Regions from separate parts of the Homo sapiens genome. Here regions 1, 2, 3 and 5 are each reported to be linked to region 4. Evidence: microRNA targets listed by miRTarBase, many of them from high-throughput screens and not tested one by one. Region 4 holds a microRNA gene; each other region holds the end of a gene's coding sequence.

Region 1 (5,104 bases), not on the chromosome of region 4:
CAAAGCTTTTACCCAATCTTCAAACCTTACTACACATAAAAAAATTCATACTGGAGGAAAACCCTACAAATGTGAAGAATGTGGCAAAGCTTTTAACCAGTTCTCAACTCTTACTAAACATAAGATAATTCACACTGAGGAGAAACCCTACAAATGTGAAGAATGTGGCAAAGCCTTTAAGTGGTCCTCAACCCTTACTAAACATAAGATAATTCATACTGGAGAGAAACCCTACAAATGTGAAGAATGTGGCAAAGCTTTTAAACTGTCCTCAACCCTTTCTACACATAAGATTATTCATACTGGAGAGAAACCCTACAAATGTGAAAAATGTGGCAAAGCTTTTAACCGATCCTCAAACCTTATTGAACATAAGAAAATTCATACTGGAGAGCAACCCTACAAATGTGAAGAATGTGGCAAAGCATTTAACTATTCCTCACACCTTAATACACATAAGAGAATTCATACTAAAGAGCAACCCTACAAATGTAAAGAATGTGGCAAAGCTTTCAACCAATATTCAAACCTTACTACACATAACAAAATTCATACTGGAGAGAAACTCTACAAACCTGAAGATGTGACAGTGATTTTGACAACACCTCAAACTTTTTCAAACATAAAATAAATTATACTGGTGAGAAATTCTAGAAATGTAAAGAATGTGATAAAGGCTTTACATGGTTGTCACACTTGATTGTAGGTAAGATAATTTACATTGGAGTAAACTTCTACAAGTGTGAAGAATGTGGCAAAACTTTTAATTAATGCTCGTACCTTATTGCACAGGAAAGAATTTTTACTTGGAAAAAGGTATATACACAAAGAATGTGGAAAAGCCATTAATATGTGCTCATATCTTACTCAACATCAGAGAGTCTGTACTTAATAAAACCATTATAGATGCAACTAGTGTCAAAAGATCTTTCAGAAAATAAAAGCCTTTAAAGTGAAGAAGATAATTCATTCTGAAGACAAACATTACAAATATTAAGAGGGTTGTAGTACCATTACTTGCATCACAGATCTTATTGTACACATTTTGTACTAAAGAAAACCCTGAAGCAGTTGCTCAAATACTGTTCAACATCAGAAAATTTATATTGGAAAAAACCCCTGGAAAATGTAATAAATTTGTAAAAACAGTTTTGAAAAACTACAGCTTATAAAACATGAGGGTCTATAATGCTTGGTTGATAGTACAAAGTTTATTCAACATCAGGGAATTTATATTGGAGAAAAACCCTACAAATGTAATCAGTTTGGAAAAACATTTTTAAAAAAACCACAGCATAGAAAACACCACAGGGTTCATACTAAAATATGTTTTTGCAGATGCAGTAAAAATGAAAAAAATTTAATCCGAAATTAAGTTTATGTAAATATCTGAGAATTCACAGTAGAAATATCTAAGGCGCGGACACTTCAGACATTACACTAAATCAGTGCTAAGTACAGAAAACAACACAAAATAAAACTTGGTGGATAAATTATTTGTATATAACATTAAAAGAAGTAGAAGATTTTCAGTTATAATTACAATTAAAGTATACTTTTATCTTGAAAAAATTACTGATTTTTAAATTAGTGAATAATGATGTAATTAAACTCTCAAATAACTTTATGCTCTTTTTTCATTCCTGCTATATTCACATGTGAAAGCATGTGACCAATTGTTGCTGCACCAAAGATATGAGAGATTCTTTTATTAGGTGGGCATTATTTAAAACATTTTTTATGGAACAGTAAGGATATTAAAGTGTAAGATGCAGCCAGGCATGGTGGCTCATGCCTATAATCCCAGCACTTTGGGAGGCTGAGGCCGGTGGATCACCTGAGGTCAGGAGTTTGAGACCAGCCTGACCAACATGGTGAAACCCTGTCTTTACTAAAAATACAAAAATTTACCAGGCACCTATAATCCCAGCTACTTCAAAGGCTGAAGCAGGAGAATCACTTGAACCTGGAAAGTGGAGGTCTCAGTGAGCCGAAATCATACCATTGCACTCCAACCTGGGCAACAAAAGTCAAACTCCATCTCAAAAAGAAAAAAAAAAAAAAAAAAGATGCGTGATGAAAATGTAACTGGAGAGGCTCTTTGTGGTTAACTTATAAAGGAGTGATGCAGGAGATAGGTTTTCAGAGTAATATTCTTCTGCATTATAGTGACAAAAGTTTTTTATTTTAGTTAAAATTGGTTAAATTAGTAAGTCATTTTACTTATTGTAATTTTATGTAATTAAATGTACATTTTTAAATTTTTAGATTACATGTAAATATAACTTTTAAAAAAATGTGTTAAGACCATTGTACATTCAATGAAGCATTATTATGCTTCTAACTTTAACCTATTTCACCTTACTCAAGAGTGTATGTAAAAGATGGTAACAATATACTATTTGGTAACATAATGGACTAACATTTCTATTAATCTATTTCACCAGTGGCTTTCAACTGCAAATAAGTTAAAGAATATTTTTCTATAGGTTAAATATTCTTTTTTGTCTTATTTAAACTTACTGTTCTTAATTTCTGTGGGTACATAGTATGATTTTAATTACCTTATTTTATTCTTTGTGCTATTCATAATTTTTTTTGTTTGTTTGGTTTTTTTTTTTGAGACAGAGTCTTGCTCTCGCCCAGGCTGGAGTGCAGTGGCGCGATCTTGGCTCACTGCAAGCTCCGCCTCCCAGGTTCACTCCATTCTCCTGCCTCAGCCTCCCAAGTAGCTGGGACCACAGGCGCCCACTACTTGTTTGGGTTTTTTTTTGGAGATGGAGTCTCGCTCTGTCACCCAGGCTGGAGTACAGTGGCATGATCTTGGCTCACTGCAACCCCCACCTCCCCGGTTCAAGTGATTCTCCTGCCTCAGCCTCCCGAATAGCTGGGATTACAGGCGTCCACCATCACACCAGGCTAATTTTTGTATTTTTAGTAGAGATGGAGTTTCACCATGTTGGCCAGGATGGTCTCGATCTTCTGACCTCATGATCTGCCTGCCTCGGCCTCCCAGAGTTCTGGGACCACAGGCATGAGCCACTGCACCTGGCCAAATGTGTATATATTTATGCAATATATAACATGTTTTGATACAGGCATATAATATGTATTAGTCACATCAGGATAAAGTATCTATTACCTTCAGCATTTATCCTTTGTATTACAAGCCAATTCTACACTTCATTATTTTAATGTACAATTAAATTGTTATTGACTACAGGGTCATTTTAATTATAAAAATTATATAGAAGTATAAATAAAGTCCATACATTCCTGAGTCATGAATAAACATTGGTATATATTTTTCTTTGACTATGTGGCCGCTCTGCCTGAAACACATACAGAGTTTTAGTTTTGACTTACATAGGGTTAAATATACACATACATTACTCTAAAGATAAACCTTAGGTGTAAGAAAATTATGGAGTAAGTAACTGTTCTTGTATGAGTGTCTACCTATTTTAGGAAGAAAAAATCAATATTGAAGCAAAACAAGTAATTTTAATAAGGTGACTAATTTACTAGAAAACTAAAAACCTCAAAAATGCTGAAAGGAAATCTATACTGTCTGCTTTCTATTGAATTCATTACTGTAAGATCTTATGGTTTATGGTTCAGAATCTCCCCATGCAAACTTTTTTTTTACTTGCTTGGTACTCATGCTAGACCCATAATTTTCTTTTTTATTATTTTTTCTTTTATAGTTTATGAGGTATTATGTAAGCTCACTGGGGATTATAAGAATGATTTTTATGAAATTTAGTTGTGCACACAAAATAATTTTTAGGTGCAATTCCACAATTAGTGTTTTAAGTTATATTGAGTTAGGATATTCGATTTTGTTTATTTAATTGGAGACTTCTATATAAACCTACTTTAGCTATTGTTCATTTCACTTTCTATAATTGACATATGTAAATTTATTGAGCTAATTAGTTCAGGTAAATACTAGGGAGGCTTCATAAGTTCTGAAGTTTTTTTGTTCTGTTTTGTTTTGAGACAGAGTCTTGCTCTGTCACCCAGACTGGAGTGCAGTGGCATGATCTCGGCTCACTGCAACCTCTGCCTCCCAGGTTCAAGCAATTCTCCTGCCTCAGCCTCCTGAGTAGCTACAGGCACACACTACCATGCCCAGCTAATTTTCTGTTTTGTATTTTTAGTAGAGACAAGGTTTCACCATGTTAGCCAGGATGGTCTCCATCTCCTGACCTTGTGATGTGCTCACCTCAGCCTCTCAAAGTGCTAGGATTACAGGCATGAGCCACTGCGCCTGGCCTTATGAGGATGTTTCTATACATAAATATAGTGAACAAGCATGATGGTGCTTGCTGTGTAACAGATTGTCCATAATAAGCCAAAAACATTTCTGCTGGAGTTAGTTGGTAGCTTCAAGTCAGAGACGGAAAATATCAGTGATGAAATAATATTGATTCTTACTGTGGAGAGAACATTTTTCTTATCTTTAGTAAAAATACAAAAATTAGCTGGCCGTGGTGGCATGCACCTGTAATCCCAGCTACTCAGGAGGCTGAGGCAGGAGAATCACTTGAACCCCAGAGGGAGAGGTTGCAGTGAGCCGAGATCACGCCATTGCACTCCAGCCTGGGCGACAGTGAGGCTTCATCTCAAAAAAAACAACTGTAGTTTTGTAAGCATCCTCAAAGAAATCTACACCTGTTTCCCAAACACTTGCAATGCAAAGTTAAATTTCACAGAATCTTTTCACAAGAGTGGGTAGACAGCTGTTTTCTTCAAACTGAGACCTGGACTATAAGGTCTTGATTCTAGCAGATCTGACAGGACTACCTACAAACCTGCATGCAGGGCTGTGTGAGTGGCTGCTGGAGCACATTGGTGGGCTGAGAAGGGCCATGGAGACATTTATGATCACCAGACGCCTTCACAGCTGCATTATGCAAATGCTGGGCTTCACTTCCTAATGAGTTCTAGCAGACTAGTGTTTCCACCAGTCCCTGACCCATGCCTTCTGAATCTCCCTTGCCCAGGGTCCTCACAGCTGTCCACTATGTATGTCTCAGTCTCTGCTGATAGAGGCCACCTAAAATGAGAGCAGAATAGGCCTCAGAAAAAGCACCTAACA
Region 2 (5,104 bases), not on the chromosome of region 4:
CAAAGTGTCTGACACCGTGGTCGAGCCCTACAATGCCACCCTCTCCGTCCATCAGTTGGTAGAGAATACTGATGAGACCTATTGCATTGACAACGAGGCCCTCTATGATATCTGCTTCCGCACTCTGAAGCTGACCACACCAACCTACGGGGATCTGAACCACCTTGTCTCAGCCACCATGAGTGGTGTCACCACCTGCCTCCGTTTCCCTGGCCAGCTCAATGCTGACCTCCGCAAGTTGGCAGTCAACATGGTCCCCTTCCCACGTCTCCATTTCTTTATGCCTGGCTTTGCCCCTCTCACCAGCCGTGGAAGCCAGCAGTATCGAGCTCTCACAGTGCCGGAACTCACCCAGCAGGTCTTCGATGCCAAGAACATGATGGCTGCCTGTGACCCCCGCCACGGCCGATACCTCACCGTGGCTGCTGTCTTCCGTGGTCGGATGTCCATGAAGGAGGTCGATGAGCAGATGCTTAACGTGCAGAACAAGAACAGCAGCTACTTTGTGGAATGGATCCCCAACAATGTCAAGACAGCCGTCTGTGACATCCCACCTCGTGGCCTCAAGATGGCAGTCACCTTCATTGGCAATAGCACAGCCATCCAGGAGCTCTTCAAGCGCATCTCGGAGCAGTTCACTGCCATGTTCCGCCGGAAGGCCTTCCTCCACTGGTACACAGGCGAGGGCATGGACGAGATGGAGTTCACCGAGGCTGAGAGCAACATGAACGACCTCGTCTCTGAGTATCAGCAGTACCAGGATGCCACCGCAGAAGAGGAGGAGGATTTCGGTGAGGAGGCCGAAGAGGAGGCCTAAGGCAGAGCCCCCATCACCTCAGGCTTCTCAGTTCCCTTAGCCGTCTTACTCAACTGCCCCTTTCCTCTCCCTCAGAATTTGTGTTTGCTGCCTCTATCTTGTTTTTTGTTTTTTCTTCTGGGGGGGGTCTAGAACAGTGCCTGGCACATAGTAGGCGCTCAATAAATACTTGTTTGTTGAATGTCTCCTCTCTCTTTCCACTCTGGGAAACCTAGGTTTCTGCCATTCTGGGTGACCCTGTATTTCTTTCTGGTGCCCATTCCATTTGTCCAGTTAATACTTCCTCTTAAAAATCTCCAAGAAGCTGGGTCTCCAGATCCCATTTAGAACCAACCAGGTGCTGAAAACACATGTAGATAATGGCCATCATCCTAAGCCCAAAGTAGAAAATGGTAGAAGGTAGTGGGTAGAAGTCACTATATAAGGAAGGGGATGGGATTTTCCATTCTAAAAGTTTTGGAGAGGGAAATCCAGGCTATTAAAGTCACTAAATTTCTAAGTATGTCCATTTCCCATCTCAGCTTCAAGGGAGGTGTCAGCAGTATTATCTCCACTTTCAATCTCCCTCCAAGCTCTACTCTGGAGGAGTCTGTCCCACTCTGTCAAGTGGAATCCTTCCCTTTCCAACTCTACCTCCCTCACTCAGCTCCTTTCCCCTGATCAGAGAAAGGGATCAAGGGGGTTGGGAGGGGGGAAAGAGACCAGCCTTGGTCCCTAAGCCTCCAGAAACGTCTTCTTAATCCCCACCTTTTCTTACTCCCAAAAAAGAATGAACACCCCTGACTCTGGAGTGGTGTATACTGCCACATCAGTGTTTGAGTCAGTCCCCAGAGGAGAGGGGAACCCTCCTCCATCTTTTTTGCAACATCTCATTTCTTCCTTTTGCTGTTGCTTCCCCCCTCACACACTTGGTTTTGTTCTATCCTACATTTGAGATTTCTATTTTATGTTGAACTTGCTGCTTTTTTTCATATTGAAAAGATGACATCGCCCCAAGAGCCAAAAATAAATGGGAATTGAAAAAAGCTGCGAGATGTGTGCTTATTTAGGGAAACACGGCTGGCTGATGGAGGCATGGGGCCTGAGTTCAGTTGCACTGCTCTCCTTAAATTGACACTTAATATTGAGTCCCTGTCCTACGGATTCAACCAACTGGATATTGGGAAAAGAGTTGTACTGGACATGTATAGACTTCTCATTATTCCCTAAACAATAATAGTATAAATTATTTACATAATATTTGCATTAGATTAGGTATTACAAGTAACGTAGAGATGATTTGAAGTACACAGGTTATATGCAAGTACTACATTTTATATGAGGGACTTGGGTGTCTGCCGATTTGGTATCTCAGGGAGGTACTGGTAAGGACACTGACTGCTTTATAGACCCTCACATCATTGTTTCTGGTACCCAAACTGCTCTGAGCACCAGTCAGTCTTTACTGTAGTCTCTGACAGCTCACTACAGCCTTGATGTCCTGGGCTCAAACAATCCATCTCATTCTCCCAAGCAGCTGGGACTGTAGGCATAAGCCAGGTGAGCCAGTGCACCAGGCCCACCAATGAGTCTTAACTGGGGAAGGCATAGGCTTAGATGCAGGATCCAGGGATGGAAAATGGAAGCTGAGAAGAATGACAAATCACGTGTAACTGGTTTCCAGACCAGCATCCACATCCTCTGGGAACTTGCAGAAATAAATGCAAGTTTTTCATCCCACCCAGATGTACTGAACCATAAATGGTTGAACTGGCCTTGGCCACCCAGCCCAGGATTCCTTTGGGTTATGTGTACCCATGGCCATTTCCTGTGATCCTGTGGGCTTAGTCAACCTATGACACCAAGATAACTAGTGAAGCCCTGGTATGGTGGCTCCCACTTGTAATCCCAGCACTCTGGGGGGCCGAGGCAGGAGGATGGCTTGAGCCCAGGAGTTCCACACCAGCCTGGGCAGCAGTGAACCATCTAACAAAAAAAAAAGCTGGGCATGGTGGTGCATGCCTGTAGTCCCAGCTGCTGGGGTAGAGGGGGGTGGTGGTTGTTGGGGGTAGGGGGGTGGGGATTGGATGGGAGGATTGCCTGAGCCTGGGAGGTAGAGGCTGCAATGAGCCCTGACCCTACCCCTGCACCCCAGCCTGGGTGACAGAGCAAGACCTTGTCTTTTTTTTTCTTTTTTCTTGAGATGGAGTCTTGCTATGTTGCCCAGGTTGGAGCACATTGGCGCGATCTTGGCTCGCTACAACCTCTGCCTCCCGGGTTCAAGGAATTCTGCCTCAGCTTCCCAAGTAGCTGGGATTACAGGCACCCACCATCACGCCGGGCTAATTTTTGTATTTTAGTAGAGATGGGGTTTCACCACGTTGGCCAGGACTGGTCTCAAACTCCTGACCTCAAGTGATCCACCCGTCTCAGCCTCCCAAAAAGTTCTGGGACTACAAGCATGAGCCACCGTGCCCGGCCCAAGCCCAAGACCTTGTCTTTAAAAAAAAAAAAGGATAACTAGGCGGGATTGCTACCTTATGGTCCCATTCTAAAACAATCTGTACCATCTACTACCTCATACTTTTAAGTTCACAATGCAAGTCTCAAAGCTACCCTGAAAACAATAATTCCTTTTGCCATGTTTTCAGGAATTCTAGGAACTAGTATTATTCCCAACATTCCTTCTATTTTAGCATGCTTTTCTGACTATAATACACTGTTGGGGGGAAAAATTAACTCTAAAACTCTTGACAGTATATAAGTAACTTGCTTTTCTCCCATTCTAGAAAGCCTATTGTATGCAAGAAAGCCTATTGTATGCAAGGGAAGAAGCTACATTCTAGCATTCATTTTCTTTCTAATAGAGCCAGGATCTTGCTTTGTCACCCAGGCTGGAATGCAGTGGTGTGATCATGGCTCACTACAGCCTTAGACTCCTGAGCTCAAGTGATCCTCCCACCTTAGCCTCCCAAGTAGCTAGGACTATAGGCAAGAGTCACCATACCTGAGTCTAGCATTCATTTTTTTTCTCTTTTTTTTTGAAACAGTCTCACTCTGTCACCTAGGCTAGAGTGCAGTGGTGCGATCTTGGCTCACTGCAACCTCTGCTTCCCAGGTTCAAGTAATTCTCCTGCCTCAGCCTCCCAAGTAGCTGGGACTACTACTTGGCATGTTTCACCCTGCCTGGCTAATTTTTGTATTTTTGGTAGAGACAAGGTTTCGTCATGTTGGCCAGGCTGGTCTTGAACTCCTGACCTCAGATGATCTGCCTGCCTTGGCCTCCCAAAGTGCTGGGATTACAGGCATGAGCCACTGTGCCGGGCCAAGCATTAATTTCCAGTTGCTTCTGTTTTATTAGTACTTACTTACAGCAATTTATTTGGGTAGCAAAGTTGAAAACCTCCAGCCCATCCCTCAGTCTTGGTCAGGAAAATATTCTAGACAACAGGCTCAAACAGTCTGATTTAATTAGGAAGTTAAATAAGTTGAGGTGGGGTGGAGTGGGATCATCAGAAGGCTGACATGGGACCGCTGGAGTTGGCAATCATAGCAGTGTGAGGTTGGCAAGGGGAGCAACCCCCTTCAAGACAAGGCACAAACTATTTGGCAAGGAGAGATGAGGGGTGGGACCTCACTGTCAATGGACATGCTCAGGGAGGCCAGTGGGTTACATGCAACAGGAGGATCATTCAGGCAACTTCAGCTATGAGGCTGGGCATCTGTGAGGGCTGAAGGCTCAGGCTGTTCTCAAAGGCTTGTGATTCACCTGGCAAAAAGACAACAGTAGATGACACTTGGGAACATTCGGGAGGCTGAGGCCCCTACTCTCCCGGGCCCCAGTTTAGACGAATGGGCTATAGGCAGAACACACACGGCCAGGGTTCTTTCTGGTGCCCTACCACCTGTTTCCCCAAACAAAGACATCAGGACCCACATACAATAAATCACTGAAGAGAGGAGAGGGGGCAGAGCCTTGTTTGCACACTCTCCTTAGCTCTGAATATTCTACTGCAGGCCTCCAGGAGGCTCCAAGGAACCCAGCTTGAAGGTCATTGGTATGATCCAGTGCTTTTATTTACATACGCTTTTTTTTTTTCTTTTTTTTTTTGAGACGGAATCTCACTCTATCACCCAGGCTAGAATGCAGTGGTGCGATCTTGGCTTACTGCAGCCTCCGCCTCCTGAGTTCAAGTGATTCTCCTGCCTCAGCCTCCCGAGTAGCTGGGATTACAGGTATGCGCCACCATACCCAGCTAATTTTTGTATTTTTGGTAGAGATGGGGTATCACCATGTTGGCCAGGGTG
Region 3 (5,104 bases), not on the chromosome of region 4:
GACATCTTGTGAAGTCAGAATTACAGAAGCTTGTCCCTAAGAATGACAGCGCTTCTTTGCCAAAAGTGACACCTGAGACCCCTTGTGAAAATGAGTTTGCTGAAGGCAGTGCCTTGCTTCCAGGCAGCGAGGCTGGCGTTTCTGTGCAGCAGGGGGCTGCAAGTCTTCCTCTCGGTGGCTGCAGAGTTGTGAGTGACTCTCGCTTAGCAAAGACTAGAGATGGCCTGTCCGTGCCAAAACACAGTGCCGGGTCCGGAGCAGAAGAATCCAACAGCAGCTCCACTGTGCAGAAGCAGAATGAGCCAGGGCTACAGACAGAGGATGTGCAGAAGCCACCACTTCAGATGGACAACAGCGTCTTTCTAGATGACGACAGCAATCAGCCAATGCCCGTGAGCCGGTTCTTTGGAAACGTTGAGCTCATGCAGGTAAGAGCGGCGCCTTCCTCCTCCCGTGGGTACTCAGGCAGCAGCTGCACATTCAGGTCACACACTCCCCACTCAGTGCAGGTAAATAATGCCTCGACACAACATTAAACATAAACTAATCATTTTAACCCACGAGGAGAAAATGAAACCGTTGGCTAATTGGGGGCTCTCCCTGCATCTCCCGAGCTGAGAATCACTGCTCTCGGGAAAGGTGTGTTTCCATGAAATCAGGTTTGTGGTTTTTTTGAACATCCACCCCGCGCTTGCTGTTAATTTCTTTTGTTTTGAACCCAGCACCTTTCCTTCTCTTTACTCGATCAGCCCAGTAGGGAGGAAGTTCTCATCTAGAGGCGAGTGCTGGGACTCAGGCATTTTCACACGTCTAAAAGGGAAGAGCGCTCTGCGAGCCCTAGAGCCGCTGGGTGGGGCACATTGCAAATGCGGGTGCAGATATGTATTGCTCATGACTGAAGTCATGTTTTCTTCTCCACTAAGGACCTCCCACCTGCGTCTTCATCTTGTCCTTCAATGAGCAGACGAGAGTTCAGAAAAATGCATTTCAGAGCCAAAGATGATGATGATGACGACGACGATGATGCAGAAATGTAGGGGCCATACAAAATAATGTCCTTGAGTATTTAGTACCATTAACAATTTGACAATTTAGCACATTACAAGATTTATATAAAATGTATCTCCAAGAGAATGTCTTAATCAAACTTCAGAACTGACCCATCTAAGTCAATAGTGCAAAGCACCCAATACCTGTGGAGGATGTACTCATGGGAACTAAAACTCAAACCATCTTTGAGGTTGCAAAGCTGCTGTACTGTGCCAATGTCCTTTCTTTTTTTTTTTTTTTTTTTTTCCTTGGAGACAGAGTTTCTCTCTTGTCGCCCAGGCTGGAGTGCAATGGCGCAATCTCGGCTCACTGCAACCTCCACCTCCTGGGTTCAAGTGATTCTCCTGCCTCAGCCTCCTGAGTAGCTGGGATTACAGGCATACACCACCACACCCAGCTAGTTTTTGTATTATTAGTAGACACGGGGGTTTCTCCACGTTGGCCAGGCTGGTCTCAAACTCCTGACCTCGTGATACGCCCGCCTCAGCCTCCCAAAGTGCTGGGATTACAGGCGCGAGCCACCATGCCCGGCCAGTGTCCTTTCTTATACACGTACATACATGATGATGGCTTGAGTCAGCTGCAGGGCAGTGGGCTTAATGAGAGGGATCTTTGTAAAGACAGCTCTTCACTTCAGCTCAGTAGCTTTGGTCATAGGCAAGTTTGTTTTCCATTATCATAATTTGATGATTCTTGTGATGAATTCAATGCTAGTTCTTAAAGAACTCTTTTATTTCTGTATGTGGAGCTAATGTTTACCTTGGAAATTTTGCAAAATACATGTAAGAAAGAAATAAAATATATTTTGAAAATATTTTGAAAGCAGTCGTATGTTCGTAAAACCGGATTCCTTTCTCAATGCCTGGGAGCCGAGTAGAGGAAACACATCCTGCCTCAGTCTCATGCTCCCAAATGCTCATAAGGCTGGGTCCATCTTTTTTTTTTTTTTTTCTGAGACTGAGTCTCACTCTGTTGCCCAGGCTGGAGTGCAGTGGCACAATCTCGGCTCACTGCAACCTCTGCCTCCCGGGTTCAAGCGATTCTCCAGGCTCAGCCTCCCAGGTAGCTGGGATTACAGGCATGTACCACCATGCCTGGCTAATTTTTCGTATTTTTAGTAGAGACGGGGTTTCACCATGTTGGCCAGGCTGGTCTCGAACTCCTGGCCTCAGGTGATCCGCCTGCCTCGGCCTCCCACAGTGCTGGGATGACAGGCGTGAGCCACTACGCCCGGCACGGGTCCATCTTTTAGACCTGTTAACCACCGAGGCCCCCGGGACAGGGCCTCTTCCCTTCTCTCGAGTGTACTTCCACTCCCACTTTGCTGCAGAAGTGTCGGGCTTTCCTATCCTGTGTGGTGGAGACGGTCAGCCATCCAGCGAAGGCCATGCTCTCCTCCAGGCCATAGAGAGGTCCGTGTGCAGCTGCCTGACGAGAACTGCATTCCCCAGCCCCAGCGGCGTCAGGGAGCACCTCACCGTGTGTTCTCGCCCAGGGCAGTGGAGACAAGCCATTGGGAGTGCTCTCTCCATGGCCTCTTCCTGCCGCCACCTGCACATAGAAGCTGAGTGGACCAACCAGGAGCAAGCTGGGGTCCCCGGGTGACCAAGGACAAGGAGAAGTTGCCTGCGATGTGGGAAGACTGGGCCTTTTCATGAGGGAACAAGTGAGTCTTGCTGGTTTTGAGCTTTTATATGTTTCTGGTTTAATTACAAGAGCAGCTAGAATTAACCCTGTGAAAATGTCCTATGAAGCACAGGAAGGATTTTCTATAACAGATAAATTGGAAGCAAAATATAGTTGAAGTGCCCTGTAAGAAGTGTTTCCGCTCTTTACTATTCAAACACTGCCCTCCCTGAAGGTGTCATTCTCCACTTCTAATGTGATCCTTTTCTCATGAGCTGTGACTTTCACCTGTTTTGAATAACTTTGTGATTTATTGATCAACAAACTATAATTTGGAAATGTGGCTTATAAAGTCATTTTATGGTAGCCAGGGAAAATAATTTACAACTTTTGCCGGGCACAGTGGCTCACGCCTATAATCCCAACACTTTCAGAGGCTGAGGCAGGCAGATCACCTGAGGTCAGGAGTTCGAGAACAGCCTGGCCAACATAGTGAAACCCCGTCTCCACTAAAAATACAAAAATTAGCCGGGCGTGGTGGTGGGCGCCTATAATCCCAGCTACCTGGGAGGCTAAGGCAGGGGAATCACTTGAACCCAGGAAGCCGAGGTTGCAGTGAGCTGGGATCACGCCATTGCACTCCAGCCTGGGCAACAGAGCGAGACTCTGCCTCTAAAATAAATAAATAAATAAAGTACAACTTCAGATTGCTGCATGAATAACTATTAATAACAGCACCTGGCCGGGCGCGGTGGCTCACGCCTGTAATGCCAGCACTTTGGGAGGCTGAGGCGGGCGGATCATGAGGTCAGGAGATCGAGACCATCCTGGCTAACCTGGTGAAACCCCCTCTCTACTAAAAACACAAAAAAAAAAATTAACCGGGCGTGGTGGCAGGTGCCTGTAGTCCCAGCTACTCGGGAGGCTGAGGCAGGAGAATGGCGTGAACCCAGGAGGCGGAGCTTGTAGTGAGCCAAGATCACGCCACTGCACTCCAGCCTGGGTGACAGAGCGAGACTCCGTCTCAAAAAATTAAAAAAAAATTTTTTTTTTAAATGACAGCACCTATCCTGGTGGTGACGAGAATTTTGCCATCCTCTAAGCAGACTTCAGTGAGGTGCACTGTCCCAAATGATGATACACCTGCAGAGGAGACGCAGCACGCAGAGTGGAAAGTGTGTGTGTTCCTGGGGCCACCCCTATTCACTCACAGTGGTTAACCTGCACTAACAAGCACTGCCAGGTAGAAACACTTCCTAGTCTACATGTGGACTGTAGCCTGCACAGACCTAGGGGGACTGACCAAAGGGGGGCGAATGAGGGAATAAAAGATAAGATACAAAAGAGTGTATTTGTGCTCACGCACACCCCCTGGCGCAGGCCGACTGTGGCTCTGCCTACAGCGCTTCCTCCTGAGCTGCAGGAGGGCCATGTCTTGTGGTCGTGTTTGCTGCAGCTTTGCCGTCTGGATGGAGCCTGGCACTGAGCTGGTTGAGGCCGTCTGCAGGCCTTTACTGGGCTCTTCCCTTGGAAGCTTCTTACTGATGCCAGGACCTCCCAGCAGGTGACCCTCAGCCCCACAGATCACAGAATTCCACACTCTTAGCTCCTAGAACTTTTCTCCCTCTTGTGTGAGAATGCACAGACCACACACTCTTTCTTTGTTGCAGAGGTTCAGCCACCTTTTCTAACCTGAGACTCTGGGTGACATAACTCCTGATAGGTGATAGCTCTTTGTAACAATCACCAGCACCTTGCCCAGCCAAGGGCCCGGAAGCAAGAAAAAAACAACCAAAACACCATGTCACAGCCAGGAGAGCCTTGCACGCTTCACACACAGCTCAACAAGCCTGGGTTTCCGGTGTCTCAACTCCTGCAGAAATGAAGCCTCAAGTCAGGAAGGGTGAGGAGGGGCACGGACAAGGCCCAACGGCAGCAGGATGGCGCAGAAAGCCTGAGGGACACAAAACCTTCTAGGCCTAGTCGTAGGCAGTGGGGCAGCACCGTGGAGCCACGTGGTAGAGGGATAGCCGCCCTGTGTGTCCAGGGCAAGGTGGCACAGCATGCCTGGACCGCTGAGAAGGAAGGACTTCCCTCAAGAATGTGTCTTGCGCCGGGTGCAGGGGCTCACGCCTGTAATCCCAGCACTTCAGGAGGCCAGGGTGGGTGGATCGCCTGAGCCCAGGAGTTTGAGACCAACCTGGACAACATAGTGAGACCATCTCTACAAACATAAAAATAAATTAGCTAGGCATGGTGGCACATGCCCGGGGTCTCAGTTACTGCAGAGGCTGAGGCAGGAGAATCACTTAAACCCAGGAGTTCAAGGCTGCGGTGAGCTGAGATCACACCACTGCACTCCAGCCTGGATGACAGAACAAGACCCTGTCTTAAAAAACAGACAGACAACAAAAGAATGTGTCTCTGA
Region 4 (5,104 bases):
CATACAGGGACATCCAGTTTTTCAGTATCAAATACTGCTTTGGAAGGCTTCCCGGACAGCGTCCCGCCTTCAGGCAAGGGGTCTTGGCTTCACCTCCCACCCAAGGTATGTATGTGAACGGGCCATCGCAGTGCACTAGCTTCTTCATGTGCCACAGCCATGACCAGAATCGAATCTCTGAGGAAGATGGTTACTTCTAAGGCTGTGATTTTCTGGAAGGGGCTTTGGTGTCTGCACTACATTATTGGGGGAAGTTGACCAGTGAGAGGCCCATTCACACAAGACGTCTGTCACCTGCTCCAAGTGACCCTCACCCTTGGTAAGATGAATCTCTGGAGACATGCTGGCTCGGTAGTGTTACTGTCATCAGCCGGACTGACTGATAGGTAATTGGTCATCATTATTGCTTTTGTTCCAGGGCAGAATTTTTGAGTGCCAAATCTTGCCAGGGAAGGGTTTCTGGAAGCAGCACCGCCCTCTGGGGAGACTTGGCATCCACATCTGTTGGAGTTTGTGGAGAGTTAGTTGAGCAGTCTGAGCTTTGTTTCTGAGGCGTCTCCCTGAGCTCACTCTCCTGCCAGAGCTGTGTCCTGCCCATGGCCATAATGGCTATTGAGAGGGTTGGTGACTTTGGCCACCATGATTTTGTTTCGATAAAGTTCTCTCTTTTTAAAAAAATCAGATTCTTTTGTTTATAGCATAACTACATGGTTCATGAGTTGATCAAATAACAAGGAATGACTTGGTCATTCCATAAATAGTGATGGAGTGCACACTGTGTTCTAGGTGATTCTGGACCTTAGCAGAGAGCAGTGAATGAAATCAAGTTCTTGCTCATGTGGACTTTACATTCTGGTGGAAGAGACGGATGAGAACACATGAATTAGGAAGCGTAATTTTGTCCACTGCTAGGTTTTATGGGGAAAGGGAAAGCGGGTTACAGTGACAGAAAGAGGTAAAAGCAGGTGGACCTTTGTGTTAAATACAGGGGTCTGGAAAGCTCTCTCTGAGGATGTGGGTGGGAATGGAGTGGGGTGGACCAGAGGAAGGTCTGGGGTAGGAGCATTTCAGGAGGAGGGCAAGGCCCATGGAAAGCCCCCTGGCATCTTTAAGAAAAAGCAAGAAGGCCAGTGGGATTGAACCGAGCTGCTGGGAGTCGCTGGGTCTGAGCTGGGAGAGGCAGGACTCCAGGTTTTATTCTGAGTGAGATGGGGGATTTGGAAGGGTTGTGAGCAGGGGGGATGCGTGGTCTGTGTTGGAAAGATCACTCTGACCACAAGGGCATTGATAGAGAATCTACCCAGGGCAGTGATGGGGAACCTACCAGGAGCCTGGCGTGCCTGAGCTGGGCAGTTTCTCTAGGGGCACCTGCAGTGGCAAAAGGGGGCCCCCTCTGGACCTCCCTAGTTCAGTGGGCCCTGCGGGAGCCTGGCTGGCACCTTGATGTGCTTGATGGATAACTCAGTGTGCTCTGTTGAGAAGTCCAAGGCCCTGTTCAGAAACCCTGGGGTCTACACACTGCGGAGTGCTCCTGGCGTGTGACAAGTGGCTTCCCTCTTCTTATTTCTAAACCTTGTGCGTGTGGATTCAGGACCACAATTTCAACTCCAGGGAAGGGGGACTGTGCCAGCACCACTCCAAGGGAGGTGAGTGAAGGGTTGCCCAAACTCCAGTGTGTTCCTAGGACACCCGTAAGCTGCCTCACTAATGCTCGGTGTCCACTCTGTCCACAGGATGGTGGTTGGCAGCCACTCCCCTTGGAGAAGTGGAAGGGGACTCCTTGTCTGTCTTGTCTCTGCTTTTCTGTGGTACTTGAAGAGAAGTTGTTCGTGGTGGATTCGCTTTACTTATGACGAATCATTCACGGACAACACTTTTTTCAGTACCAAATGCTACCTCTAAGGACTTCCTGGACACAATGGCAGCTTCAGGAAAGATAGTCTTTGTGTCAACCATGTGGAAAAGCCAAGAATGGATGGCGGGCCATGGACAATGCGCTGACCTAGCTGTAAGTCACCTGGCCCGATAATCCGAGCCTCCCATGCACCTATAGGAGGTCTTCCCATGGGTCTCACCAACTCTGGGGAATCAGCTGTGGTTCTGTCACCAGCGTCACCTCACAAGACTTTGAAGAGAGGCTCCCTGGGCCCCAGGCCGACTTCCAGAAGAGATGTTGGTGTCAGCACCGTCCAGGGTGTGTGACTGGTTGACCAGAGGGGCATGCACTGTGTTCACCCTGTGGGCCACCTAGTCACCAACCCTCAGCATCACTCCCACTCCAGGAAGACTTTCCAGAGCTCCCACCAACTCTGGGGAAGCGGCCATGGACTTGCTGTGACTGCTTGGTGGACTGCGATGACACGTGCTCTTGGGGGTGTATGTTTACTTAAAATGCAATGAGTCAGCCTTGGCAGCCCCTTCACCACTGTGACAGCCTCCTTGAAGTGTTGACTTCCGATGTGGGACGCCATGTTGTCTTCTGTTGAGGGACCTGATGTGGGCCAGCTTTTCTCCTGGGTGTGTGACTGAATCCTTCTTCCCAGAGCATGTGCTGCCTTTGTTAGGTCTGTCACGTCGTCCTCTAATACCCAGCATCCTGTCTCTCCCTAGGAGGCTCCATGGAGATAATGCGGCTTTGGGAAGCGGCCATGATTCTCCTGTCAGGGACCAGTGAGCTACGCAAAAGCTCCCTGTCTTGTCTGGAAGGACGAACTGCATCCTTGCTGCTGGGGAGAAGGCAGTGCCCTCAGCACTCCCTTAAGGTAAGTGCGCCTCGGGTGAGCATGCACTTAATGTGGGTGTATGTCACTCGGCTCGGCCCACTACCCAATACTATCCCACCCATTCCTAACAGGACTCCCGAGAAGGGCGGCCACCTCTGCCAGAGAGGCAATGGATTTCTCACCAGTGTTCATGTGTGGTACTTGGAGAGAGGCTGGCCGTGATGAATTCGATTCATCAAAGCGAGTCATACACGGCTCTCCTCTCTTTTAGTGTCAAATTCTGCCTCGGAGGGCTTCCTGAGCCAGTGCTGCTTCCAAGGTAGGTTTCTGGATGGCTGACCCCATGGCAAGCATTTTCCTGAGGATGCATGTAACTGACCTACTAACTTTAGAGTCCAAGCTGACCCTAAAACAACTTCCTGGGGCACTACCAACTTTAGGAAAATCGAGAGAGGTTGTTGGGATGCCCTAATTTTTTAAAAGTTAAGATTGAAATACACATGGCTGACTTCTTTTTTTATTCCTATCAAATTCAACCTTGGAGTTGAATCTTGGGCATCTAGAAGCATCTTTTATTAGTCAGCCGTCGGGATACAGAAGAAAACAGGAACAGGACTCTGTGCGACCCCTGGTTTACTAACCCACAGCAGCCTTACACCCTCCAGAGAATTCCTGTAAGGGAATCCCAGGTTTACCAAGGAGGCAGTGCTTAGCCTGCTTTTGCACACACATTTGTGTGTGGTTTGCTTCATATTTAATGACTCCTGTGCCACTGACATCCTTGCATTATTAAATGTTGCCTGCATGGCCAGCTGAGCACAAGAAGTGGTATTTCTGTGCACACTAATCCTGGCTTGGTGAACCTGGGGTTGGCCGGAGAGCATGGGTTTGAGCCACCTGGTCCACTCATCCTCAGGGTCCCATCCACCCTCAGAGGCCACTCCCAAGCTGCCCAGGCTGTGCAGAAGATGCAGGAATGCTGCGAGCAGTGCCACCTCATGGTACTCGGAGGGAGGTTGTCCGTGGTGAGTTCGCATTATTTAATGATGCCCAATACACGGTCGACCTCTTTTCGGTATCAGATCTCACCAGGTGTCTTCTTGGACCTGATGCCGATTTAGGGGACACCATACTCATGTTGGTTCCACACCAGTGCAACTGAACATGTGTGTGGCCCTGGAACCAATGGGTAGGTGCTGCTAGCACTCCTAATCCTCAGCCAGTGCATTCCTGGGGAAGAAGCATGTGATCTGTGCTCAAGACCCCTCTGTGACTGAGGAAGTGGTGGTGCCCATGATGCTTCTGGGGTTTTGTGTTTTTTTTTAAAGAAAAACAATGTATAGTTCTCTTCTCTTTCACTATTAAATCTTACCATGGAGGAAGGACTTCTTAGACATGTTGACAAATTCAGGGAAGGGGCGTTGATTTCAGCATTCTTGGGGACTCACTGGAAGGGTGACTCACCACATCTGTTGATCTGGAGGCCACAGCAAATTTAAGAACAGAAGACAGTTGCATTTTCAATTTCTTGTTTTTCTTTTCAAAAAGGATAATTATTCTACCTTATTACCATATTTATGAAAATGACACATGCTTAATAAAATTCAAGCGATGTGGAAAAATCTAAATGAAAAAGAAGGAAAATTGCCCAATTCTCTGGCACCCAGAAATAACCATTAAGGGCTTTAGAAATTTCATACACCTGTCTGAGCATACATGCAAATAGAAAAACAAGACAGACGCAGGGAAAATATGAGATCACACTGTACCTAATCATTTTATTAAAAATGCTAACTATAATTTTCCTTGAATTTATCATAAAAAACAAGCTAAAGGAGATTGAAATGATTGATAAATGTTTCTCGCTTTACCACCACAGGTAGCAACTCCTAAAAGATCCCTGTAAAATTAAGAAAAATTAGAGTGTAAAAATTAAGTGGTTAGGATTGTTATGGTTTTTAACTATTTCAATTTCACTCCTAGTTCAGAAAGATAAAGAAGTCAGCATTCTTATTCTTCCTTTGCTTACTATCTCCTGCTTTTTCTCAATTATACATTTTAATTTTACATTATAAATATCTGCAATTTGTTCTAGAACTATAATTCTTGCAGGTGTTTTGCCATAGTTCTATATTTAAATGAATTCATTTCTGACCACAAGGTTTGTTTTTTTTTAACTGAGGTTTCTCCGTTCTTTAGTTTTTAAGTTTAATTTATCTCTCAATGGAAATGATCTTATTGTTTCTGTGAGAATAGCTCATAGACACTACCCTTGAGTTCCTGTGCATTTGAGAGTATATATCTCTTTATGCACAAGGGACAGCTTAACTAGGTATAAAAGTCTCAGCCTACTTGTTTTTTCTCAGAAATTTATAGCTATT
Region 5 (5,090 bases), not on the chromosome of region 4:
CCGCCCTCCTGGTCACGTGACCACGCCTACAGCCGAAGAGGATGGGAAAATGCGGCCCTGTTCCTGAACAGGAAGCGGAAGCAGGAAGGAACTGAGAACACCAGCATCTGCTGCCGCCCTGAATCAGCGTTAGCATGTGGAGGCAACCTCAGCCCCCAGTTTTTGAAGAAGGTGATTCAGATTCAGACACAGGAATTATGGTGACGGTAGAAATGGACTGGAAGGTTCGTTCCCCTTGCCCACCAAGACTCCAGAGCAGGTGGGTTCTTGATGTCTACTCTGCATGAAGCCCTGGGCTTTCCGGCCCTCCCTACTTTTCCTCCGAATTCACAGCACAGCGGAGCCAAAATGTATTCCTGCCAAAACGGGCATTTCCCAAAAGAAAATATTGTTTTAGATTCATTGTTCACAGCCTCTTTTTTTTTGTTGTTCATTTGAAGCAATTTTTCTTTTTTATTATTATACTTTAAGTTTTAGGGTACATGTGCACAGTGTGCAGGTTAGTTACATATGTATACATGTGCCATGCTGGTGCGCTGCACCCACTAACTCGTCATCTAGCATTAGGTATATCTCCCAATGCTATCCCTCCCCCTCCCCCCACCCCACAACAGTCCCCAGAGTGTGATGTTCCCCTTCCTGTGTCCATGTGTTCTCATTGTTCAGTTCCCACCTATGAGTGAGAATATGCGGTGTTTGGTTTTTTGTTCTTGCGATAGTTTACTGAGAATGATGATTTCCAATTTCATCCATGTCCCTACAAAGGACATGAACTCATCGTTTTTTATGGCTGCATAGTATTCCATGGTGTATATGTGCCACATTTTCTTAATCCAATCTGTCATTGTTGGACATTTGGGTTGGTTCCAAGTCTTTGCTATTGTGAATAATGCCGCAATAAACATACACGTGCGTGTGTCTTTATAGCAGCATGATTTATAGTCCTTTGGGTATATACCCAGTAATGGGATGGCTGGGTCAAATGGTATTTCTAGTTCTAGATCCCTGAGGAATCGCCACACTGTCTTCCACAATGGTTGAACTAGTGTACAGTCCTACCAACAGTGTAAAAGTGTTCTTATTTCTCCACATCCTCTCCAGCACCTGTTGTTTCCTGACTTTTGAATGATCGCCATTCTAACTGGTGTGAGATGGTATCTCATTGTGGTTTTGATTTGCATTTCTCTGATGGCCAGTGATGATGAGCATTTTTTCATGTGTTTTTTGGCTGCATAAATGTCTTCTTTTGAGAAGTGTCTGTTCATATCCTTCACCCACTTGTTGATGGGGTTGTTTTTTTCTTGTAAATTTGTTTGAGTTCATTGTAGATTCTGGATATTAGCCCTTTGTCAGATGAGTAGGTTGCGAAAATTTTCTCCCATTTTGTAGGTTGCCTGTTCACTCTGATGGTAGTTTCTTTTGCTGTGCAGAAGCTCTTTAGTTTAATTAGATCCCATTTGTCAATTTTGCCTTTGGTTGCCATTGGTTTTGGTGTTTTAGACATGAAGTCCTTGCCCATGCCTATGTCCTGAATGGTAATGCCTAGGTTATGGTTTTAGGTCTAACGTTTAAGTCTTTAATCCATCTTGAACTGATTTTTGTATAAGGTGCAAGGAAGGGATCCAGTTTCAGCTTTCTACATATGGTTGGCCAGTTTTCCCAGCACCATTTATTAAATAGGGAATCCTTTCCCCATTGCTTGTTTTTCTCAGGTTTGTCAAAGATCAGATAGTTGTAGATATGCGGCGTTATTATTTCTGAGGCACAGCCTCTTTCTTTCGTCTCCCTTTCCTTTCCTCATCTCTTGCTCTAATTGGAGAATTTGACAACTCTGAACCTCTGACTGTGGATAACCCCAACTCCAGCAAGCCTGGGCAAGAGTGGGACAGTTGCAGCCCAAGGTAGCCAAACATCTGAGTTTTGCCTAGTAACAGATCATGGAGAGGTCAGACCAAGAAGTGGAAGGAAGTGGCCGGCCTGAGGCCTTTGTTTGGGCCACTCAGGGTTGAATGAAATGATAAAGGTAGCCACGTTGTCTGGATGCGCTTCAGGTAATAATTATTCTCTAAGGAAAGCAGTCATATTTATATCCATAAAATCAGTTTATTAAATTACATAGCAATATACATCCCAAACCTTTTCTCAAAATTGTCATTAGCTTTTTAAATTCGTTAAATATTTTCATCTCATTAAAAATGGTTTCTTCCTTTAAAATTTCCCAGAAAGTGTGGCCTCTGTTTTCTGCTACTCAGTTTAAACACATCATCAAGGATAGATAATTAATGTCAGGTGAGCATAAAAGGAGATTATAAACCAGAAATGTGTTTTCTGGGAACCAAGTTTCAAGTGACTCAGATAAGTTTTATTAATTTCATGGGTGAAGCCCCTGGATAAAGCAGTGCCTAAATCAGGCTTGTTTACCCTTGGCATTATGTCACCAAACACTGTTTCAGGATACTGGAAGTACATACAGCTTGGGAGGTCTTTGGCCTGAGCCTGTTTTGGCCAAGCCCATCCAGAATGAAAAGTACAAAAGAAGGCTAGTGTGTGTGCAAAGCAGCATGGCTTATTTTGAGGTCCTATTAGTTGTGGGCCAACAAAACAGTGGCAGGATTTGAAGGAAGAAATGTATTGCAATAGTCCATATCCTTCGAACCACAAAGGGAGACTGAGGAAATGCTGGCTTTAGGCCAAAAAACCCTGGCTCAAAACAGCTTCCTCCAGTGGCTCAGAGGCAGACCAAATTCATCAAGTCAAGGACCTTTTCCTGCTACCACCTTGCGGAGAGGGGCCTTCACCAGCCCACCCTGCACATGGGTTTCTGCTGTTCAGAACCTACCCAGTAACAACAGGAGCAAACATACATGTTTTCCCCTCATGTAACTTTGCATTTAAATATATTCTGGGAAACTGCTGGGCACAGTGGCTCACACCTGTAATCTCAGCACTTTGGGAGGCCAAGACAGGAGGATCACTTGAGTCTAGGAGTTCAAGACCAGCCTGGGCAACATAGGGAGACCCTGTCTACAAAAAATTTGAAAATTAGCTGAGTGTGGTGGCACTCACCTGTAGTCTCAGCTACTCAGGAGGCTGAGGGGAGGGATCGCTTGAGCCAGGGAGGTTGAGGCTGCCGTGAGCTGTGATCCTGCCAGTGCACTCAGCCTGCGTGACACAGTTTGGAAAACTGTCTCTCTCTATGTATGTATCTGTTCAGGGAAATGGCAGCGTGAGATTTTATGGCAGTTCTTGAGACTTCAGAAACACTTCGGCACCAGCCAAATCCCCCCAAGAGAGCAAGGAACACTTTTCCAGTTGCTTAAAAAATTTAAAGTTATAATGAAAAATGTTGTAAAAAGAACTACAGAGGCTGGGTGTGGTGGCTCACACCTGTAATCCCAGCACTTTGGGAGGCCAAGGCGGGTGGGTCACGAGGTCAGGAGTTCAAGACCAGCCTGGCCAAGATGGTGAAGCCCCGTCTCTACTAAAAATACAAACATTAGCCGGGCACGGTGGCAGTCACCTGTAATCCCAACTACTCGGGAGGCTGAGGCAGGAGAGTCGCTTGAACCTGGGAGGTGGAGGTTGCAGTGAGCTGAGATCACTCCAGCCTGGGTGACAGACTGAGACTCCGTCTCAGAAACAAAACCAAAAAACTACAGAATAGAGTAGGGGTGGAGGGAAGTCATGCATTTCCAGTGGCTAGCACTTTGCGCTCTGCCTTGGCGAGTATCTGCAAACTTCCTGACCATCAAGTGCGCTTGCAGCCATCCTGGATGTCAACTGGCCACAGACCCTTTGCTATGGGGAGTCCCTGGCTACATCCATTAGCAAGTCAGAGGTTTCCTTTTGTCCCCATGATGCCACTCTCCAGCAAGCTCAAACTGCTGTCACAATTGTTTTACTGTACCTAAAAAGGAACAGATAAGGCAAGAGCCACAGTCAATGTTTTCTGTGAAATGGTCTTGGCAAATAGCATTAAGAAATCTTGTTGAATTTCAAAGAAAAGGTCTGATTAGAGGTGCCTGTTGGAAGCAGAAGCCTCAAGAAATGAGGAAGGAAAGTTAATTTGAGGGTCTGTTTCATTTCTGATACAGAATAATCACAAAAACAAGTATATGCCGCTGGCTGTAGCTCCCCTTAGGATTTGGATAACCAGCTGGATTTCCAGATGGCCACTCCCGTTCTCTATGCTTCCCTCCTCCGGGCTATATCCTGCAGAGCTTCAGCGGGAAGTTCTCCGTGATGAGGTGGTCAGGGTGAAGCAGCACCACGATGTTAACCTCAAATTCTGAGAAGAGAAGAGAGGGTGGGTTTGTGCTCACTGTTACCAAGCAGCGAAACCACACGCCGCCACCACTGCAGTCGCAGGAAGCTCTAACGGCGAAGGAGCACCCGGTGCGGGTGGGTTTCATTGCTGTCCCCTCAGCGCCACCCTGACCTTTCAGCCAAACTTTCAGTGGAGATGACTATGCTGATGTCTGACTACCTCTGTCAACTTTCTCTAAGTGAATTTTTGTCCTCTCATCTTGGAACATGAGTGATCAGGCTTCACCAACTACACTTTCCCTGTCCCTTTGCTTTCCTAAAAAGGATATTCTAGAACCCTTTCAATTCATTTGTATTCCTTTGCCTTATTTTTACATTTCCTACGGTTCTTAATGAAATAGCAGACTGTGAACCAGCGCATAGCTGTCTGGGCCCATGTCCCCAATCCCCAGGTGAGAAACAGTCTTCAGAAGCAACAATTTCATTGTTGCTCCATTGGATACTATTCATCCATCACCTTTCAGCAAACAGGATTCCTTCTCCACCGACTCTTCAGCTGATATGGGTGAGCCTTGTTGATCCTAACAAAAGGGATGTGTGTGAAGAGGAAGCACCTGACGACAAACAAGCACCATCTCCTTCCCCAGTGTGAGGAGGGGTGGGAAGGGCATCGTGTGGGCAGAGGGCACCCTGTGCTGAGCCCCACACTGTGGCAGCTCAGCTGTGGAAGGGGCCTTGGAGTCAGTGCCCACCTGTGGCTGGGGTCTGCAGGACAACATCCCCGTGTGGGAGTGTCCACCTCCGCCCAAACATCAGCCACAAGA

The links. The annotated mature microRNA hsa-miR-485-5p reads AGAGGCUGGCCGUGAUGAAUUC and lies in region 4 at 2,931-2,952, shown strand. An mRNA with a match to its seed (bases 2 to 7 or 8) in the 3' UTR can be bound and repressed. Matches are read on the target gene's strand: a 7mer-m8 pairs with bases 2 to 8, a 7mer-A1 pairs with bases 2 to 7 and ends in A, and an 8mer does both.
Region 1: the mRNA of ZNF43 is a reported target of hsa-miR-485-5p. Seed matches in the 3' UTR shown: 7mer-m8 at 2,718-2,724 and 7mer-m8 at 2,873-2,879.
Region 2: miRTarBase lists FLOT1 as a target of hsa-miR-485-5p. Seed matches in the 3' UTR shown: 8mer at 4,506-4,513.
Region 3: miRTarBase lists C1orf174 as a target of hsa-miR-485-5p. Seed matches in the 3' UTR shown: 7mer-m8 at 1,401-1,407 and 7mer-m8 at 1,535-1,541.
Region 5: miRTarBase lists VPS26C as a target of hsa-miR-485-5p. Seed matches in the 3' UTR shown: 7mer-m8 at 3,541-3,547, 7mer-m8 at 3,364-3,370, 8mer at 3,123-3,130 and 7mer-m8 at 3,087-3,093.

Annotation. Positions count from the first base shown.
Region 1 is chr19:21,803,134-21,808,237 of GRCh38, reverse strand. It overlaps ZNF43 (zinc finger protein 43), which reads left to right. Exons shown (of 4, transcript NM_003423.4): 4 at 1-3,292. The coding sequence ends at 631. Among named protein-coding and RNA genes, the nearest start is that of ZNF43, 30 kb to the left of the region's middle.
Region 2 is chr6:30,723,581-30,728,684 of GRCh38, forward strand. It overlaps FLOT1 (flotillin 1), which reads right to left. Exons shown (of 13, transcript NM_005803.4): 13 at 4,129-4,565. The coding sequence ends at 4,536. TUBB (tubulin beta class I) reads left to right here. Exons shown (of 4, transcript NM_178014.4): 4 at 1-1,842. The coding sequence ends at 817. Among named protein-coding and RNA genes, the nearest start is that of TUBB, 5.8 kb to the left of the region's middle.
Region 3 is chr1:3,885,893-3,890,996 of GRCh38, reverse strand. C1orf174 (chromosome 1 open reading frame 174) reads left to right here. Exons shown (of 4, transcript NM_207356.3): 3 at 1-428; 4 at 924-1,864. The coding sequence ends at 1,037. Among named protein-coding and RNA genes, the nearest start is that of C1orf174, 12 kb to the left of the region's middle.
Region 4 is chr14:101,052,497-101,057,600 of GRCh38, forward strand. It overlaps MIR485 (microRNA 485), which reads left to right and starts at 2,923; the gene lies at 2,923-2,995. MIR382 (microRNA 382) reads left to right here and starts at 1,810; the gene lies at 1,810-1,885. It overlaps MIR134 (microRNA 134), which reads left to right and starts at 2,191; the gene lies at 2,191-2,263. MIR668 (microRNA 668) reads left to right here and starts at 2,762; the gene lies at 2,762-2,827. It also overlaps MIR323B and MIR487A.
Region 5 is chr21:37,221,339-37,226,428 of GRCh38, forward strand. VPS26C (VPS26 endosomal protein sorting factor C) reads right to left here. Exons shown (of 8, transcript NM_006052.2): 8 at 2,084-4,288. The coding sequence ends at 4,206. It overlaps DSCR9 (Down syndrome critical region 9), which reads left to right. Exons shown (of 3, transcript NR_026719.2): 3 at 1-398. Among named protein-coding and RNA genes, the nearest start is that of DSCR9, 15 kb to the left of the region's middle.